Linked DNA regions of Homo sapiens. The protein of the gene in region 1 purifies or fractionates together with the protein of each later gene. This does not show direct contact. Each region holds a gene or a part of one and is shown on either strand. Other genes may lie near its edges.

Evidence for each region. The genes of interacting proteins can lie anywhere in the genome.
Region 2: the proteins of RNMT (region 1) and HEXB purify together in Homo sapiens (affinity purification with mass spectrometry; 2 studies listed by BioGRID, with this or other methods). This does not show direct contact.
Region 3: the proteins of RNMT (region 1) and KPNA5 purify together in Homo sapiens (co-immunoprecipitation; 3 studies listed by BioGRID and IntAct, with this or other methods). This does not show direct contact.

The regions. Positions count from the first base shown.
Region 1 is NC_000018.10:13,750,646-13,757,673, forward strand, and holds part of RNMT (mRNA cap guanine-N(7) methyltransferase), read left to right. Parts: intron 1-1,680; coding exon 1,681-1,782; intron 1,783-3,468; coding exon 3,469-3,502; intron 3,503-6,568; coding exon of another isoform or gene 6,569-6,714; exon of another isoform or gene 6,715-7,028. UniProt on the Homo sapiens protein: Catalytic subunit of the mRNA-capping methyltransferase RNMT:RAMAC complex that methylates the N7 position of the added guanosine to the 5'-cap structure of mRNAs. Binds RNA containing 5'-terminal GpppC.
Region 2 is NC_000005.10:74,688,226-74,695,253, reverse strand, and holds part of HEXB (beta-hexosaminidase subunit beta isoform 1 preproprotein), read right to left. Parts: intron 5,927-7,028; coding exon 5,781-5,926; intron 1,616-5,780; coding exon 1,550-1,615; intron 1-1,549. UniProt on the Homo sapiens protein: Hydrolyzes the non-reducing end N-acetyl-D-hexosamine and/or sulfated N-acetyl-D-hexosamine of glycoconjugates, such as the oligosaccharide moieties from proteins and neutral glycolipids, or from certain mucopolysaccharides.
Region 3 is NC_000006.12:116,719,204-116,726,231, reverse strand, and holds part of KPNA5 (importin subunit alpha-6), read right to left. Parts: intron 4,107-7,028; coding exon 3,943-4,106; coding exon of another isoform or gene 3,939-3,942; exon of another isoform or gene 2,908-3,938; intron 1,936-2,907; coding exon 1,857-1,935; intron 482-1,856; coding exon 356-481; intron 1-355. UniProt on the Homo sapiens protein: Functions in nuclear protein import as an adapter protein for nuclear receptor KPNB1. Binds specifically and directly to substrates containing either a simple or bipartite NLS motif.

The DNA.
Region 1 (7,028 bases):
TTTAAAAATTAGCCAGCATAGTGGCTTGTGCGTGTAGTCCCAGCTACCCAGGAGGTTGAGGTGGAGGATCACTTGAGCTCGGGAGGCCAAGGTTGCAGTGAATGGAGATCCTGCCACTGCAATACAGCCTGGGAGACAGAGCAAGACTCTGTCTCAAAAAAAAAAGATGCTAGTTTACATCTGATCTTTGACAAACCTGACAAAAACAAGCAATGGAGAAAGGATTCCCTATTTAATAAATGGTGCTGGGAAAACTGGCTAGCCATATGTAGAAAGCTGAAACTGGATCCCTTCCTTACACTTTATATAAAAATTAACTCAAGATGGATTAAAGACTTAAATGTAAGACATAAAACCATAAAAACCCTAGAAGAAAACCTAGGCAATACCATTCAGGACATAGGCATGGGCAAAGACTTCATGACTAAAACACCAAAAGCAATTGCAACAAAAGCCAAAACTGACAAATGGGATCTAATTAAACTAAATTAGATGTACTTATGCACAGCAAAAGAAACTATCATCAGAGTGAACAGGCAACCTACAGAATGGGAGAAAATTTTTGCCGTCTACCCATCTGATAGAGGGCTAATATCCATAATCTACAAAGAACTTAAACAAGTTTACAAGAAAAAAACAACCCCATCAAAAAGTGGGCAAAGGATATGAACAGACACTTCTCAAAACACGACATTTATGCAGCCAACAGACACAGAGGAAATGCTCATCATCACTGGTCATCAGAGAAATGCAAATCAAAACCACAATGAGATACCATCTCACGCCAGTTAGAATGGCGATCATTAAAAATTCAGGAAACAACAGATGCTGGAGAGGATGTGGAGAAATAGGAACGCTTTTACACTGTTGGTGGGACTGTAAACTAGTTCAACCATTGTGGAAGACAATGTGGCGATTCCTCAAGGATCTAGAACTAGAAATACCATTTGACCCAGCAATCCCATTACTGGGTGTATACCCAAAGGATTATAAATCATGCTGCTACAAAGACACATGCACACGTATGTTTATTGCAGCACTGATTCACAGTAGCAGAGACATGAAACCAACCCAGATGTCCATCAATGATAGACTAGATTAAGAAAATGTGGCACATATACACCATGGAATACTATGCAGCCATATAAAAGGATGAGTTCATGTCCTTTGTAGGGACGTGGATGAAGCTGAAAACCATCATTCTAAGCAAACTAACACAAGGACAGAAAACCAACCACCACATGTTCTCACTCATAGGTGGGAGTTGAGCAATGAGAACACATGGACACAGGAAGGGGAACATCACACACCGGGGGGCCTGTCATGGGGTGGGGGCCTGGGGGAGGTATAGCATTAGGAGAAATACCTAATGTAAATGATGAGTTGATGGGTGCAGCAAACCAACATGGCACATGTATACCTATGTAATAAACCTGAACGATTTGCACATGTACCCTGGAATAATATACCCTAGTATAATATTTAAAAAAAATTGGTTTAAGAGAGGATTCTTCCTTTTTTTTAATTTTTTTCTGTATTTCAAAAGTATGTATAGTTTGTATTCCTGAAGTAGTACTTACGGATTATTCTCCTAATTATGTTATTTCAGTGATTTAGCATGTTTAATTCTGAATTGTAAATTTCCGTTATTGTAACTAGGACTTTCATTTCTTTCCCCAGCCATATCCTGCAAATGAGAGTTCTAAACTTGTCTCTGAGAAGGTGGATGACTATGAACATGCAGCAAAGTACATGAAGAACAGTCAAGTAAGGTTACCTTTGGTAAGTTTTAATTTATGAAAGTATTTTATAGAGAATGAAAAAAAGAACATGCTTATATGGAGACATAGGAAATGATTTCACTTGTTTACAATACTTAGGCTCACTGACTTACAAATCAGTTGTTTCCACTAAGTGATGTTGACTTGTTATAACCACAGAATATGGAATAAAATTTATTTCAATGGACTGAGAATGGAGTGCTATATCTAAGGCAATGAGGACAGTGAAAAAATTACAGGGTTGGTGTGCAAGTTCCCTGCTAATGTAGGCACCAATGAACCACAGCATTTCATACATAGAATGCAGCAGTCCAGGAATTTAAATGGGAAAAAATTACATCTTCACCTATACTAATTTCTGCGTAAAAGTTTACATTTTAAGAATGATTACTACAATAGTACCACAGTGGTATTAGCTGCTGCTGTGACTTTGTCATCAGTAGAAGTTACAGATATTTTCATAGCACATTTTTGCTAATATCTTAGAATATTGTTTTCATTTATCACATCTGGAAAAATGACATCACTAGAACTGCCACTAGATCTTGTTATTATAGTTAATGGTGTGTGCAAAGCAACACATATCTTTAATATTTTGATAGCTACATAAATATAATTTATTTCCTTTGTGTGATATGTACTTTATTTTGTTATTCCTTTGAAAAAACACAAAAATTGTATTTTTTCCACCAGTGCTGTTTGATATTTCAAGATAGGCCTTTTTTATTTTTTCATTTTCCAAATTAAGAATACAAGATAGGGCCGGGTACAGTGGCTCACGCCTGTAATCCCAGCACTTTGGGAGGCCGAGGCAGGTGGATCATGAGGTCAGGAAATCGAGACCATACTGGCTAACAGTGAAACCCTGCCTCTACTAAAAATACAAAAATTAGCTGGACGTGGTGACGGGCCCCTATAGTCCCAGCTACTTGTGAGGCTGAGGCAGGAGAATGGGGTGAACCCGGGAGGCGGAGCTTGCAGTGAGCCGAGATCGCAGCACTGCACTCCAGCCTGGGCGACAGAGCCAGACTCTGTCTCAAAAAAAAGAAAGAATACAAGATAGGCCGGGCGCAATGGCTCAACGCCTGTAATCCCAGCACTTTGGGAGGCTGAGGCGGGCGGATCACAACGTCAGGAGATTGAGACCATCCTGGCTGACACGGTGAAACCTCGTCTTTACTAAAAACGCAAAAAGTTAGCTAGGCGTGGTGGCGGGCACCTGTAGTCCCAGCTACTCGGCAGGCTGAGGCAGGAGAATGGCATGAACCCAGGAGGCAGAGCTTGCAGTGAGCCAAGATCACGCCACTGCCCTCCAGTCTGGGCGACAGAGCAAGGCTCTGTCTCAAAAAAAGAAAAAAAAAATAATACAAGATAGATGCATTTTCCAGTTACACACACACACACACACACACACACACACACACAATGCCCTCTTCACACACATTCACCCTTTGGATGAGAATTTGAGAATTTGGCAGGAGGATAAAAGTCTGAGAAGATGACTTTCAAAGTGAATCTCACCGATTTCTTTTATATGCTCAGGTCACAATATGATTAACAGTGAATCGAATGTGTATTTACAGTGAAGTTAGGGTCTTTTGGCCATCTCTGCCCATTATTTAGAAATAAGCATATGTTTACTTCCATATTGAATCTAAAATTTTCTTTTTCTCTTTTGTAATTTTAGGGAACCTTAAGTAAATCAGAATGGGAAGCTACAAGTGAGTATATCATCAGCATAGATTAACTGATAATTTCAAAAGTCCTGTTTCAAAGTGATCATTAAAACCTGAAAAAAGGCTGGGCACTGTGGCTCACACCAGTACTCTCAGTATTTTGGGATGCCGAGACAGACAGATTCCTCGAGCCCAGGAGTTGAGACCGGTCTGGGCAACATGGCAAATGCTTGTCTCTACCAAAAATACAAAAAAATTAGCCAGTCATGGTGGCATGTGCCTGTAGTCCAGCTACTCAGGAGGCTGAGGTGGGAGGATTCCTTGAGCCTGAGAAGTCAAGGCTGCAGTGAGCTGTGATTACATCACTGCACTCCAGTCTGGGCAACACAGCGAGACTCTCAAAAAAAAATCTGAAAACTTTGAGTTTTTCTGACATTTTAGGTTGTGTTTGTGTTTACACACACACACAAATACGTATATCTCTACATATGTCTAATCCTCCTTTCTTGCACAGCTGTGTAGTGCCAAGAGAAGATACACTGTACACAGGGTCTTCCTCAGCATAAACTTGAGTGAGCATGTGTAAACATTCTCATTGCCTATTTGTTACTAAGTAGCCATCTCCATTTGAAGTGTTTACCTCAGATTTCTACTGGAATTTTTGGCTTATAGAATACTTGCATGTCTTTTTTTTATTTGGCCACTCTGATGTGACAGTGAAGGCATAATAATACTAGAACATTCAATGAAACATCCATGAGCAGGATGTGTTAGAGGTGTGCATGATAGGGGACAAATGTGGTGCAAAGATATTCTGAAGTGAGGTTCCTGTGTTCAGAAGAGAAGCCAGAAGCACAGCAAATCTGTGAAGGCCTGTGGTTCTTCAGCAGTGGGTGTTGAGGAAGTCAGGTTGCAGAGCCTCATTGTTACTGTAGGAATCCCCTTACATGGTTGTTGGTGATGTTGAGGCACAAGTGGTCATTAAGGACAATCCATTTGATAAACATTATTGATTTACGTGAAGTTCTGTGAAAGGTAAAGTAAAATAAAGATGTTAAATCTCTACCTTCTAGAAGTCTACACTGTAATGGAAGGAACAGGCACAAATAAACACTACTAGGCAAATTTTTAAGTGCTAATGATACTGTAGTGGGGCACAAAGGTGAAAGAGAGCTTAATGAAAACTAAACTAATGACATCTGGGATGTAGTAATATTGATATTACTGAGTGTTGAACATGTGCAGGTGCGTGTAACGTTTTTAATCCTTGTAATAACTCACATGTTGTAACTCATTTAATCCTCACAATGACTTTATGAGTAGAGTATTATATCTCCTTTCACAGATGAGAAGACTAACAACTTAGCTAAGATCACAGAGCTAACCTGTGGTTAGCTTACCTAAGTGATCTGTCATTTTAACTATGGTTTCATGGAAGCCTGGCAAAAGGAAAATCTAGTAAGACTTCCTGAGTTGGATAGAGAAGAAGAGGAAAGGAGTCAAGCAAGACCAGTATTTTGAGGCTATTTGTCTTTGAACATTGGTACTATTACTAGAAATCGGACTGGAGGATGTTATACACATACGATCATGCTTGACACACTGGTGAGCATGTGCATAAACTATGGATTTTATTACTTTTTCCCTGCAGTGGAGACTGGTTGCCTGTCTTAGACATCCTGCTGGTCCCAAAGTAGAGTGTAAATTTTGATCACGAGTCATCATGATGGCGGTACTGGCTGTGGCTTAGAACTGTATTTTTATATTATTAAGTGTGGACTTTAGTCATCATGTACAAATGAAAAATTAGATGGCCCCAGACAATTGGAAGAGATGGGCTGGACATGCGAAGAGAGCAGTGGCCAAATTGCACCTCGGGTGTAGCACCCCAGGATTGTTTGGCTGTTTGATGAATTGCTCTGTTCTAAGCTAGAGGGCTTCGTGGGTTGAGCGTATTTTGCATGCCATCACGAGTCTAAAAGGCCCAGGCTACATTTTAGACTTCTACTGGTCTGATCATTAAGCTATCACCAGAGCTGCTGCTCCTCTAGAAGATGGCTTTAAATGAGAAAGGAGAGAATTGCTATTGATTTATTTCTGGAAGTGGAAGTGGTTCACGATTTGATTTTTTTAAATCCCAATTGAAATGCCTGCATAGAAGGCATTTTATACAATAAGTGGGACTTTTTAGGAGTTTCAAGTTAGAAAGAAAGTTGCTATTATGTATTGAAAATCAGACTCTAGCATGTTAGTGGTTTCAAATGACCCTAAATGAGGACAGGACAGGACTGAGGGGTTGTTTGCAATTGCTATGGGTGTGTGGGGGGTGGGATTTGGCAGGGCTGGGCTGCACAAAGGTCACACAGAGTGGGGGACAGCATGAGTGATACTGGCCAGCTGTGAGTGCTGACATGCTGTGCACGCTGATGTGTTGCAAGTGCTGGGGACTGCTTTGTCTCCTTACCTTCTGGCAAGAACCACAGAATTGATGAACACCCTGCCTGTTTTCTGTCCTATCGCTGTGCTACTAGCCACATTTCATTTCAACTAAAAGAAATTGGAAACCGGTAAATAAGGTGACCAAAGTAGTATTTTGGAAAAACTGCTATGGTGTTCCTGTACAAGTTGGGTTGGAAGAGCAAGAAGCTGGAGTCTTGGGAGGCCATCAGGCAGTTAGCTGTGTTCATCTACCCTCCCTTCAAAAGAAGTCATCTCAAGGAGTGAGGCCTCCAGCTTAGATGGACTTGATCTTGACTCACTGTTGAGTATCCTAGCACATGCCCCAAACATCCTTGTGATGTTTGCAGGATTTGTCACCTTTGCAGGTATTTTCTTGCCCTAAAATCTATTGGTATTTTATTAGAAGATATACAGGCATACCTTGGAGATACTGCAAGTTCAGTTCTAGACCACCACAATAAAGCAAGTCACTCAGATTTTTTGGTTTCCCAGTGCATATAAAAGTTATGTTTACTGTAGTCTGTTAAGTGTGTAGTAGTGTTGTGTCTGAAAACCATGTACATACCTTAATTTAAAAATACTTCATTGGTAAAAAAATGCTGATGATCATCTGAACCTTCAGTGAATCTGAATCTTTTCTGCTTGGTGAAGGGTCTTTCCTCCATGGCGGAAATACTCTTGATGGATGGTGGTTGCCGAAGATTGGTGTGGCTGTGGCAGTTAAGACAATGAAGTTTGCCTCATTGATTGACCATTCTTTCACAGAAGATTTCTCTGTAGCATGCAGTGCTGTTTGATAGCGTTTTACCCACTGTAGAACTTATTTCTAAATTGGAGTCACTCCTCTGAAACCCTACTGGTCTTTATCAACTAAGTTTTTGTAATATTAATATTCGAAATCCTTGTCATTTCAACAATGTTCCCAATGTGTTTACCAGAAGTAGATTCTATCTCAAGCTCATCCATAAGAAGCAGCTCTTCATTTGTTCAAGTTTGATCATGAGATTGCAGCAATTCAGTCACATCTGCAGGCTCCACTTCTAATTCTGGTTCTCTTGTTGTTGCCATCCCGTCTGCAGCTACTTCCTCCACTGATGTGTTGAACCCCTTG
Region 2 (7,028 bases), on another chromosome or scaffold:
CCAGCCTGGGCAACAGAGCAAGATTCTGTCTCAAAAAAAAAAAAAAAAAAAAGCGTCTCTTCTCCTTAGCAGACGCAGATGAGACAGGCAGATTGGACTAATAAAAGCTTAAAATCACTAATATTATACATAAATAAAATTACATTTGTAGTAAATATCTAGATATTTTCATATTCTATTTTGAATAAAATTATAATCTTATGGTATAAAATATATAGCATAACAATGATTATTTTAGGTAACACTCTGAGTCAGATTCCAAATCTTTATTTATTTTGTTTTTTGAGATGGAGTTTTGCTCTGTCACCAAGGCTGGAATGCAGTGGTGCCAGCTCAGCTCACTGCAACCTCCCTCTCCCAGGTTCAAGCAATTCTCCTGCCTCACCCTCCCAAGTAGTTGGGATTACAGGCATGCGCCACCATGCCTGGCTCATTTTTTTTTTGTATTTTTAGTAGAGATGGGATTTCACCATGTTGGCCAGTCTGGTCTCGAACTCCTGACCTCAAGTGATCTGCCTGCCTCAACCTCCCAAAGTGGTGGGATTACAGGTGTGAGTGACTATGATCAATCCCAAGCCTTTATTTTAATGACTAAGTTTGGTTAGTTCATGTTTTTTTAAATTCCCTTTCTAAAAACTCTGCTATTCGGAAGTCAGTACAGTATCTTATCTGCCTAGAAAGAAAGGTAAAAGAAACTTTTGAACAGCAAATGTCCTGAGGTCAAACTTTGAAGTTCAGACTCTGAAATTCTCATGAGAAGCTTTTCAAGTTACTCCCTGCCCACTGCCTCTAACCAACTCTATAGCATATTTGCCTTTTGACACTGTTCCTTATACAAACTTAGTTATGTTTCTAAATCTACAGGAATTTAAAATTAGGGAAGAGAGATGCTTGCTTCTGAAGTCAACAGAAGTGATAGCTGAAACAAAATTCCCTAATCAGGACAGGTTGGGGCCATGTGTAGTGCTATAAACATTACAGTCCCAAGAGCATCAATGAATTACAGCACTGCAGGAATGTAATAACCTTCAAACATTTTTTGAGAGGTCAAATGAGTTTTCTCCCATGCTGTATTTATTTATTTGTATTTTTTTGAGACAGGGGTCTTGCTCTGTTGCCCAGCCTGGAATGCAGTGGTGTGATCTAGGCTCGCTGCAGCCTCAACGTCCTGGACTCAAGCAATCCTCCCACCTCAGCCTCCAGAGTAGCTGGGACTATAGGTCCACACCACTATGCCTGGCTAATTTGTGTACTTTTTGTAGAGATGGAGTTGCACCATGTTGCCCAGGCTGGTCTCAGACTTCTGAGCTCAGGCAATCATCACCTACCTCAGCCTCTCGAAGTGCTGGGATTACAGGCGTGAGCCACTGTGCTGACCTCTCCCATGCTTTATGTAGTACATGTTCAATGGAAATCATTTTGGAACTACATAACAAAGCATTCTGTAAAGGATCTAAGGCGGCAAAGTTTTGCTGTGCTTAATTTCACAAAGCACCAACTGAAAATTTTCCTTTACTGGAAAGTAACAATGAAACTGCATGGAACTTACCTCGTAATGCTCCCCAAACTCTGTTGGCCTTAAGGACAGCCACTGGTTCTTTCACAAGTAAAGTATCTGTATTGAGGATTTAAAATCACACACACACTTTTGTTAATCCCTCAATGACACACAATAAGTTTCCTAAACATGTCATTGATATTTCTGGACTATTATTTTCTCCCAAGCACATGACCTATTTCTCTAACTGCCTCCTGTACATCTCCATTTGGATGTCCTGCAGGTTCCTTCGACTCCACATGCCCCAACAGAACTCTTCCCTCCCTCCTCCGCACACTTCAACCTGCTGGTCTTCTGTGTTCCTCATTTCAGTGAGTCACAGCACCACCATCCAGTCACTTGAGTCACTCAGAACGGGAATTTGGGTGTCAACTCCATGTTTCCTCATTTTCCTAAAAGAGTTAGTCTCTCCAACTTCTCCTCAACAGAGTAGGGTCCTAGTTAAGCTAAGAGTTTAGTTGAAAGTGCAAACATTCCTCAGTTCCTACTAATCCTTGGTAACGCCCTAGGTGTCGCTCAAATCTACTCCCTTTAAGGCCAGAGAGTATCTCCACTCTTTTGCATTCAGAATTTTCTACTTGCCCTGTACCCACCTTCCCTCAGTATCATCCAAATCTGCCTTAAGACTTACTCTCCAAATCCCTTTAGCTTAGTTCAGCTTTGTCTCACTCAATAAAAATAATTCAGCTTTGTCCCACTCAATTAAAAGTTCACATCATCCAGAATGGGACTCCAGTTAGCTGCTTCTGGTGAGAGGCTAATCTTTCAATCTTTGAAGCACACTCTAAGGTTGGCCCAATAGTCATTTAGTCTTTTAGAGAGGTCTGGAGTGGAATCAACCACATAGTAAACCCACAGATGGTAAAGAGATTGAAAGCTAAAGGGTGTAACAGCTTTGGACTTTGCCACGGCAAAGACACTGATGGGCTGGAGATTAATGATTTAATACTGTGTCCTCTGGGGTGGTTTATCACCTTCTACCACCACCACCATTCAGATGCTCACAGAATAGTTAGCTGCAGGTAGGCAAAAGTGCTCTATCAGTAGTGTGAGCATCTCAGGTGATAGTCTTCTGACAAGATAGCCTTTTCCATTAGATAACCACACTCCATTAGATGAGTTAGCCAATGCCAGGCTAAGAACTATATTGCTATTTATGAGCATAGTCTAATTATGTTTCCTCTACATCTATAGCAAATTCTTGTGTTGTTGTTGAGACAGAGTCTCACTGTGCTGCCCAGGCTGGAGTGGAGTGGCACAATCACGGTTCATTGCAGCCTCGACCTCCCAAGTAGCTGGGACTGTAGGCATGTGCCACCACGCCTGGCTAATTTTTCTCTTTCTTTTTTTTTTTTTTTTTTGTAGAGACAGGGTTTTGCCATGTTGCCCAGGCTGGTCTTGAACTCCTGGGCTCAAGCCATCTACCGGCCTCAGCCTCCCAAAGTGTTGGGATTACAGGTGTCAGCTACTGTACCCAGCCTGTATCAAATTCTTAATCAGCTACCTAGAGCTCACTGCTCCATTGGTCACTGTTTAAAAACATTTTTTTGCCACATTCTAGTTTTGAGATCTTCCAGAAATAGCACAGTCACCTAAAAAACATTAATATATTGCATATATTTGATACCAATTATTTTCTAATAGTTGACAACTGGCTGATATTAAACAGGACTGTAATTCAACTCAGTGGAAAATACATATAACAATTAGAAATTTGGTTTTCTAAATATATGGACACATAGCTATAGAATTTCCATTTTTACTTCACAACCAAGTTATTAGTGTTAACAATGATCACTTCCCTGAAGTGTGAAAGGAATTATATCATTGACTTTTCAGTTAGCCCATTCTGTATCTTTTTGCACCATAAATACATTTGTTTTGGAGGGTGAATATACAAATGACATATCTATATATTCTGTTTAAAAGCAATATAATATAGATAAGGCTAAAATCTCCTTTGAGATACTCACCTAACTCCCTCTACCTTCCTCAGAGGAAATACTTATCGGGCATTTTCTTAGGCTTGACATAGATGTACACGGAAGGAGAAAATATAGTATTGCTTTATGCGTGTGTTCCTGCACGTGTGTTGATATATAAACAGGGTCCACCTCTACACATAATTATACAGCTTCCTTTGTTCAACTCAGCAGTTTATCTTGTCAGTTCTCCATGTGTGTTCTCAGTAATACTGCTTCTTTATTCTTAACTGTTGTGATTATACTGTTTAGTATAGATTGACAAGATGTATTTAGCCATTCCTCTATTGATGGACATTGAGTTTTATTGACAGTTCTTCACATTACAGGCAAACTGCATCAAACATCCTTGATTTATGTGTCCATTTATCTGCAGTAAAAACTAGTCCACTTCTCAGGGCATGCATATTTTTATTTTTAATAAATAGTGGTGCTTTAACATGTGTCACCTCCTCCAACATGTCCTCCCACTCTGGACATTTGATATCTTGTTATTTCCATTCATATGTGTTACTTTTATCATCATCATCAACTAGTTTAAAGACTAAAAACTAGTTTATTCTTCAGCTGAAAATTTCACAATAACCTTGTCTCAAGAAACTTCCCTTTCAGAATAAAGAGGGTTTGTAGAACTGACTGAAAGATAAGCTATGACTCTCTAGTCTCGATACATTTCATTTTGTGGAATTTACAATCTGTTATCTGTATTGCCAATGGACAGCAAAGATTCCTTGGCAACGTAATGACCATTTCCATCTCAATTCAGGTTGCAAAACCTACTTCACATGGTGTCTGAGTGCTGAGTATCAATTGAAATGATACCTGATGTTGGTGAATTTTCCTATTTCTCTTCTAAGAACAGCTATGGAATTGAAGAGAAAGAAAGCTTTTTTTCAAAGAGATGTATTATTGAGAAATCTCATCTAAACCAGCAGGATGAAGACATGTACTTAACTGTGAGGCAGTCTGGGGGTAATGGAGTTGCTCTTTTCTCTAAATTTGTGGCATCCTATCTTTTTTTTTTTTTTTTTTTTTTTTTTTTTTTTTTTTTTTTTTTTTTTTTTGAGACTGTCTCACTCTGTCCCCCAGGCTGGAGTGCAGCGGCATGATTGCAGCTCACTGCAACCTCTGCCTCCTGGGTTCAAGTGATTCTCCTGCCTCAGCCTCCCGAGTAGCTGGGATTACAGGTACGCACCAACACGCTTGGCTAACTTTTTGTATTTTTTAGTAGGGATGCAGTTTCAGCATATTGGCCAGGCTGGTCTTGAACTCCTGGCCTTAAGTGATCCACCCACCTCAGCCTCCCAAAGTGCTGGGATTACAGGTATGAGCCACAGCGTCCAGCCTCTATCTTTACACTTAGTTCCCCTGTCTGCTCTTTCTTGCACGAATCTTATATTACACATGTCCTTATACTGCCCTTCTTTGATTCCTTGGTGCAATTCCACATTATTCTCAGGCAGTATACCCTATAGAAATGGCACGCCCACTTATTTGTTCTAAAACAATTTGGGAAAAGCCCTAGAGAATAACGTTTTAGGCAACAACGAGGACAAAATCATACAGCTAAATGTTGATTATATTGTACAGCAGATTACAAATGAAACTGCTGTACCCACCCTCTCCCCTAGCTCTGCATTATCTTTCTGTAAAATTAGATTATAAATAGAGATCATGGATACAGATGTTTTCAAAGACAAAAAGTTAAGAAATTACCTAGATGTCCAAAAGAGATTACCCAAGTCAGCTCATCCATATAGTGACAGAACATTATTCAGCCATTGAAAATGATATCACAGAAAACTAGTGAAATTCATGTTTAATTTATAATGTATTTTGCAAAAAAGCATGATATAAAAATACAACAAAAATACAAGAAGCACATGTACAGAATTACTGCCATTTTCATGTCAATGCTTATCATGTTTGTATTTATGTCTATGTAAAATGTTTACATGTTTTACTCTGCAAAAAAATACACCTAAAATGACAGTGATTAATTCTATCTGCTGGGATTATGAGTGATTTATTTCTTCTTCTGCACTTACTGTACTTAATAAATTTTCCACAAAGACTATGTACTACTTTTATAATCAGACTTTAAAGGTTATTTTTAAAATAGGAATCATAAACTCACTGGTTGAGAACTCAGTGGTTCCTAGCATGGAGTCAGTTTTTGGCACTTAAGTCCGTCAGCGAGCACCTGGGATATAATACACTCACATTGCATAGGTACTTACAAGACTCATCTGAAGATATGTTGGGGAAAGCATCACACTCTGACTGAAGGGTGATTGAGACAAGAAGTTGCTGAACCTGGGTTTTAGCCTGGAATTCAGCAGGTTCATGATGCCACTTGTAGAAACCAAAAATATAGCCATGATATCTGTTTGAGAAATAAATGTAAACACATTTTAGAAGGATTTTAGCCAAATTTTTAAAACAGATGTGCTAGTAACATTGTAGTTAACTCCTCAAATCCATGCTGCCCATTGTAAGTCCAACTAGAGATTCTCACCCCAAGCTGTACATTAGAATCACTTGGGAAGTTTTTTGAAAATCCCAACGTCCATGCCTTCAGAATCAGAATCTATTAGAATGGGATTCAGGCATGGGAATTTTAAATGCTTCCCCACACTCTGAAGTGACATATGAAGCCCCGTTAAGAACCAATAATGAAACCATCATGGTAATCCATCACTCTTGGGAATGAAAAACCAATTCTGACCAGTGATAGGATGTGGGGGTTAGGGGGAGTTCTGAGCAAATCACAAGAAAACTTCGTTTCTCTGTATGTGAGAGCTGGACTAGTTGCCACTACACTAAAGTGGACAGAGCAGAGATGGAAAGAATATGGATCCCTGGTAACACTGTTGAGCCACTTGGTCAACTTGCCCTAAATTCATCCCTACTTTTGGACATCCTAATGTGTGAAATAAGTTTTCCTATTGTTTGAGCCAGATTGAGTCAGAGTTCCTGTTACCTTCCTGCAAAAGTATCCTAGCTTACATATAAAGCCCCAAAAGAAGGTCCAGAATTCTCACCAGAGCCTTTAAAATTTACTTTTTGTTGGCCAGCTGCAGTGGCTCATGCCTGTAATCCCAGCACTTTGGGAGGCCAAGGCGGGAGGATCACGAGGTCAGGAGTTCAAGACCAGCCCGGCCCACATAGTGAAACTAAAAATACACAGTCTCTACTAAAAATACAAACAATCAGCTGGGTATGGTGGCAGGCGCCTGTAATCCCAGCTACTCAGGAGGCTGAGGCAGGAGAACTGCTTGGACCCGGGAGGTGGAGGTTGCAGCAGTGAGCCAAGATCGCACCACTGCACTCCAGCCTGGGTGACAGAACGAGACTCCATCTCAAAAAAAAAAAAAGTACCTTTTGTTGGTATCCAAAAATCAGAGAATATTAAATAAAAATTCTGTAAAGGCATTAAATATTGTAAAGGCATTAAATATTAATATTAATATTAAATACAAAAAAAG
Region 3 (7,028 bases), on another chromosome or scaffold:
ATAAGTAATCACTGACACAAGAAGCTTGATAGAACCCTAATAAATCATTAAAAGCTTTGAGAGGAAGATTATTGCATAACTTATTTAAAACTAATGCAAAAAAATATCTTTCTAAAGACAAACCATTATGTGTCAGGCACTGTGCTAGACACACACACACACACACACACTTGATGTTCTTCACTAGAATACTACAAGTAAATGTTATTATTTTAGAGGAGGAAAGCCCATGTTCTTTAAAATACTTTTTCGGTATCTTTTTAAAAAGGAATCTTTTTTAGTAAAAGTGTTAACTTTTGTCCAAACTGGCTTCTTAGACCTTGCTGTTCTACTCTCAGATCTGAAGGGTAGTTACCTGAATCTGAGCTCTATTTCCAGCAGTGATGTTAGAAACAGTCCAGCAGGCTTCTTTTCTAATTGACTCCTTTGGGCTACTCAATAAATGTAAGAGACAGGGTAATGCAGAACAATTCAAAATTACCTAAAACAAGTTAGAAATGGAAACAAAAAGTTTTATAGTAAATAACCTATATGAAAATCTACTAATGAATTATTTAGATGTACAAAACCCATTCTAGAAAGTGAAATTAAGAAAGGAGAAATTCCTCCCAAAGTAAAACTTGCTGTCTTCTACACGTCTGCTATTGATAAACCTAGTCTCCTGCCACTATAAGGAACTGCCCTGTTCTCAACCCAATAAAATGAAAATCAGAGGTGTATCCTTCATATTTACAAATGTTCTCAGAGTTCAACTGATAAAACTGAAAAAAGATTTGGTGACCGAGGTCAGGATCCAACCTCTAGTTTTGCCAAATGAATTGGTGAAAAAAATACATATATCATACAGTCTGAGAAAATCCAATTCTACAACCATTAAAAACAGCATGTAGAATCAATTGGCTTCATAAAAATTTTTACTATCTTACTCTTCTTCTGTAAACAAGTATATTCTGCATTGTCCCTTTACATTCTTTATTCCATTGCAAGATTAATTATGTTCCTATATTCAAAATACTCCAATGATTTACATTAAATTCATCTGGTGAAGAAGTGTGGAGCAGTGCACTGGAAATCCAACTGAAAATTACAGTATATGTCTAGAATGGCATTTTCATTTCAAGAGCTATATTAAATGAATAACTGTCAATTACTAAAGAGCAACTATTTAATAACTATGATTAGTATCCAAATAGGCCTTTAAAAGGATAAAACTGAAAGAAAATATGTAGGTTAGAATAAAAAATACACTGTAAGGCGGTAAACAAAGGAGAATCTAACGTGTTAAATAATTTAAGTTTCTATCTTCAAGAAAGATTGTGCTGGACATACTGGCTCATGCCTGTAAGTCTAACGCTTTGAGAGGCCAAAGCAGGAGGATCACTTGAGCTCAGGAATTTGAGACCAACTTGGGCAACATAGCAAGACCCTGTCCCTAAAAAATAAATAAATAAATAAATTAGCCAGGTGTGGTGGTGCACACCTGCAGTCCCAACTACTTGGAAGGCTGAGGCGGGAGGACTGCTTGAGCCAGGAGGACTGCTTAAGCCAGGGAGGTAAAGGCTGCAGTGAGCCATGATCACACCACTGCACCCCAGCCTAGGAGAAAGAGCAATATCCTGTCTCTAACTAAACTAACTTACTAAATAAATAAAAAGATTGTAACCCAAATCTGGCTGGAGTCAATCTTGACAGCACATCTTCTTTGACATCTCACCATCCTCCAAGACACAGATACAGACACACACACAATTATGGTGATGCTAAAATCTTGATTAATATGTAATCAAGTTGTATGAAACATAAATTTTTTAAAGTCCTTTATGTTAACAATTTATGATACTCAAGTTTGAACTCACCTGTGTTTGAATATCATCACCAGTCACAATATTACCAACTGCCCTTAATGCAGGTGATACAACTTTATAATCATTGTGCCTAAAAATAATAAAAACATGAACCTAAATACTAGTAAGAATTTAAAATTTACACAGAAGTTACAAAAATACTACAAACTCCTGCGGGGTGTTCAGCCAAAGATCCCATTGAAGTTTTACTAATTATTCTGATAATCTTTATAACAAAGGATCTAATCCAGGATCGTTCATTACAGCCAGTTTTCATGTCTCTCCAGAATGATTTCTCAGTCTTCCCTTAATTTTCATGATTTTGCCATTTTTGAAGATCATAAGCCCATTATTTGGGTTTATCCAATGTTTTTCATGATTAAGACCCAGGTTATATACTTTGGCTGGGGGATATCGTAAGTGCTATAACCTTTTCATTATATCCCAATCTGTTTTTTCCCATTATATTGGTACTGAATTCTGGTCACTAATTATGATGATGTCTGCCAGACTTTTCCATTTTACCATTATTGTTTTCCCATTTATAATTAATATAATTAATATTTTGCAACAAAATACTTTGAGATAATGCAAAATCCCACTCCTTAACCTACTTTACCACTAGATTTTAGCATCTCTTGATGCTTATTATCTGAAGTATTGGTAATTATTAGTATTATTACCAGTGATGTATTTCTAATACTATCATTCTAACTACATGCTTTAGTGTGGACTTATGGGTTTCATATTTTATTCAATAAAATATACATTAATGCAATTTATTTCAAAGCACAAACTGTCCCAGGTTTGGATAGTGAGAACCCCTTCAAATAGGCTTCTGTGTTCTTTTGACATCTGTCCATTACTTGAGCACTCATTACTTCCTGCATTCATCTTACATTTTTCTCAGTCCCAGTCCTGAAACCAGTCATTTCTCCAACAATCTTGGTTCCTTTCAATGGAGAGTAGTGTTTAGAAACTTCGATTTGAACTTCAGTTTCCTCAGCTTATTAATGTAGAAGTGTTACTGTTCCCATGCCCTTCAAGAGGATGCACACACACATACCTACACACATGTATATATTTATTTCCATACCTAGCTATGTTAAGAGCCATGAGTTCACACTGATATTTCTAGTTCTAATCTAAAATAATTAAATTATTCAGGCTTTCTCCTCTTCTATATTTTTATCTCTATTCTCCGATAACAGGAAATAGCTTCTATTTTCCTAACCTCCCTATATCAGCCAATCTTTTACCTCAGCCAGACTGGTACCCCATGATGTGCTGGCTCCAAGTCCTGCTCCAGCCTGCTTATCTGCTCACCCCAGTGGGTGTCATTATCAAGTTGGGGCCCTGATCCCCCATGCTGAACCTGCATGCCCACCCTCCACTGATGCTATCCTCATGCTGGGACCCCCAACTCCTTATCAGACCTATCTTTGTGCCATCTACCTTGTTTGGGCCTACAATGGCTTCTCGACAAAAGAAGAAAGGAAGGAAGATAATACATTTTTTAAAGAGGGTAAGTAGATGAAGTTATGAAGTTACAACATCTTTTTAAAACAAGTTTTCTTCAACGTTTTTAACTTCTTTGTATAGAAAAGCTGTTCTTTTTAAGGAAAATAGCTATAACAGCCCAGCAAAGAGAAACATGTTATCTTTAATAGAGGTGAAATACTAAATGATTTTCACTACATGGACTTTTACTCAAATTAATTATTATAATGAATAATAAACTAGATTATTTGTTCTGTGAGAGGAGAAACTGTGTTCTATACTTCATTAATGTCTCACACAACACCTTAGCAGATAACAGGCATTCCATAAATACTTATTAAGTTTATCTAATTCATAAAGAGATCACATTAAACTAAGGAAATTCATTTACAAAATAATTAGTTCCAACTATAGGACATAAGTTCCAAATTTTAGGGTCAACTTTCTAGGATTATGGCTATTCTGTTAAGTGTTGGGTCAGTAGCTTTTTAATTTTCCCTGAAGACAGTGACTCTTGAGATATTTACAAAGCTATTACTTGAATTGCTAATTTTAATCTCAATCATACAATTATTAAGCATAAATTATTTATAGTTACATCAAAAGTTCCACCAATCTTCGACAGACTCCAGAATCAATGACTGCTTGAATTTTATCATTGGGTCCATCGGAGAGATAAGAAAGGGCCCAACACACGTCTGCTAACACATCTGGGTCACTGCTAAACAACAGTCGTGACAGGACATTTAAGCAAGGTGAAACCTGTAAGGGAAGAAAGAGCATATTTAAATTTTTTCTCTATTTAAAACCAAGTTTCCTTAGAAAAATATAGAAATTCATTTTAAAACAAAAATTTAATGTTATAAAAATACCAGAAAATTTATATTGTTTTAAAATTATAATCAGATGTATGAATATGAAGCTGATTATGACTACTATTATGTTATATTGAATAAGATATGTAGTTAAATTTGTTTTAAAAAATAGTAAAATATTTGAGATCTCTTGTCTGTGTCTAAATCACACACACCCCCACAAAAAAAGCATACCAAAACTGAGAAGTTCAAATGTTCCAGTTAAGTGTTTGATATGATGATCACAGAATATAATCTAACTTTAATGAGCCTCACTGTACTCATTACATGTACTTAACTGGAAATAAATCTAATAATCATTTGAGGAACTAAGGTACAGAAAGTACAAAAATAAATATATTTGTGAAGGGTACTCAAGTGGAAGTCATTAATAAACTATTACACTGATAAGAAGGCATGTAGCACCTAAGAACAGTGCCTGACATAGAGTAGGCACTCAAATGTTGGCTTTTTTTAAATTCCCATGATCACTATTGATGCTATGTTCCTTAAAGCTGTTTTTTTAAAATAAGCAACCTAACATATCCCTTAGTCTTTCTCCTCAGTTAAGAAGTATGTTAAGCTGGGCACGGTGGCTCATGCCTGTAATCTCAGCACTTTGGGAGGCCGAGGCGGGTAGATAACTTGAGGTCAGGAGTTCGAGACCAGCCTGACCAACATGGAGAAACCCGATCTCTACTAAAAAACAAAAAAAAAGAACTATGTTATATGTTATGTATCTCACAAATAAAAAGTGATGACATTTTTCTTAAATGTTCTAATATTTTAGATGACTTTTCTCTTTACCCCTATTTTAAAGAATATCAGTATATAAACGATCCTCTTCTGAAAGCAGTTACCATCTCTGCTGGGCCTGTCCTCTAAAGATGATTTTCAAGATTATCAGCATATAAACTATCCTCTTCTGAAAGCAGTTACCATCTCTGCTGGGCCTGTCCTCTAAAGATGATTTTCAAGATTATCAGAATATATACCACATTTTCTGGAAGTAGTTACCATCTAAAGATGACCCTAGGACTCATGTACACAAATCAGTTAGCTTACATAATAGGTATGTCTATCTGTTAGTGGGCAAATAAAATCAGCACAACTGGATCCTTCTCCAGCAATCAAGCTTCCACCCTTGCCAACCACCTCTTCCTTGAACAGAGAAATCAGGGTTTGTTTTTCGTTTTTTGTTTTGTTTTGTTTTTGAGACAGGGTCTCACTCTGTTGCCCAGGCTGGAGTGCAACCTCTGCTTCCTGGGCTCAAGCAATCCTCCAGCCTCAGCCTCCTGAGTAGCTGGGATCATAGGTGTGAGCCACCATGCCCAGCTAATTTTTGTACAGACAGGGTTTCACCATGTTGCCTAGGCTGGTCTAGAACTCCTGTGCTCAAAACAATCCACCCACCTCAACCTCCCAAAATGCTGGAATAACAGGCATGAGCCGCCACACCCAGCCAAATATCGGGTTTTTGAAGCAAATATAAAGTATGTTTAAAAAAATTAATATAGCTGACATATACCTTTTCGCTGAGTTAAAAAACAATGAACTAATACCTATTTCCAGTATTAAGTGAGCAAAGTAAAAACATTTCTGCCCCAGTATCTTCTCAGGAAAAAAAAAAAGAAACAGAAATACAAATTCCAACTTTGAAAAGGCCAGTAGACATTAATAATCCTGCCCACAATATATAAAGACAAAAGTGAATAAAGAAACAGTAACCGACTTAGAAGAGGGGAGAAAAGTGGAAGCTTAATGCCAGGAGAGGGAACTACCAATAAGAGGAAAGCTAATTTATCTCCCCACCATCAACTCCAAATGCTTAGAAATCAGAGGAACCAGGTATCACAGACAGCAGGGGAAACGGTGCTAAAGTAGAGGAAGAGGTTAAAAATCTGATAAGAAGCAGGATAGACTTTGGGTCCCTACTACAAAGGTAGGTGACTAGCATTCTCAATGCTACCAAAGACTGGAAGTTTATTTGAAGGAGAAACTGGACAACAAAATGTGAATCACAGAAACAGAACTTTGGGATATAAAGCACAGTGGAGGTTGAAATGAAGCACTAGACTAGAAAGTAGGAGATAAGTGTAAGTCTGCATACTGACTAGTGAAAACCTCTAGCTCTTTCCCAATACTCAGTTCCCAGATGTTTATTATTTGTATTTTTTATTTTTGAGACAGGGTCTTGCTCTGTTGCCCAAGCTCAAGGTGCAGTGGCATGATCACAGCTCACTGCTGTCTCAACCTCCCAGGATCAAGCAATCCTCCCCATCTCAGCCTCCTGAGTAGCTGGGAGTACAGGCATGTGCTACCACAGTCAGCTAATTTTTTAAATTTTTTTGTAGAGACAGGCTCTTACAATGTTGCCCAGGCTGGCCTCGAACCCCTGGGCTCAAACCATCCTCTCACCTCAGCCTCCCAAAGTGCTAGGATTACAGCATGAGACACAGTGCCCAGCTGCAGGATATGTAGTAGCCAGGTATGTTACCTACTCTATACCTCAACCCAATCTACCCATCTTCCAGCAAAAGAATGCAAAATCTGTCTCTAAAAAAACTGAATGGTCTCACAAAAGAGACTGAAATTTAGTGTTCCTCTAAGAAAATATGGTTTTGCTGCCCAATTATCCTACAATGAAGTCCATTTATACACTCATTTCCAATCAGTTTTTAGTTTCTTCCGAAATTTGTTCAAAAATCACCAGATAAATGAAGACAGCCTCCAACATTAAAGTGATTAAGACAAACCACAAACAAAACAAAAAAAGCACAAAGAAACAAAGATGCCAAAAAACAAACAAACAAATAACACTATAAATCCT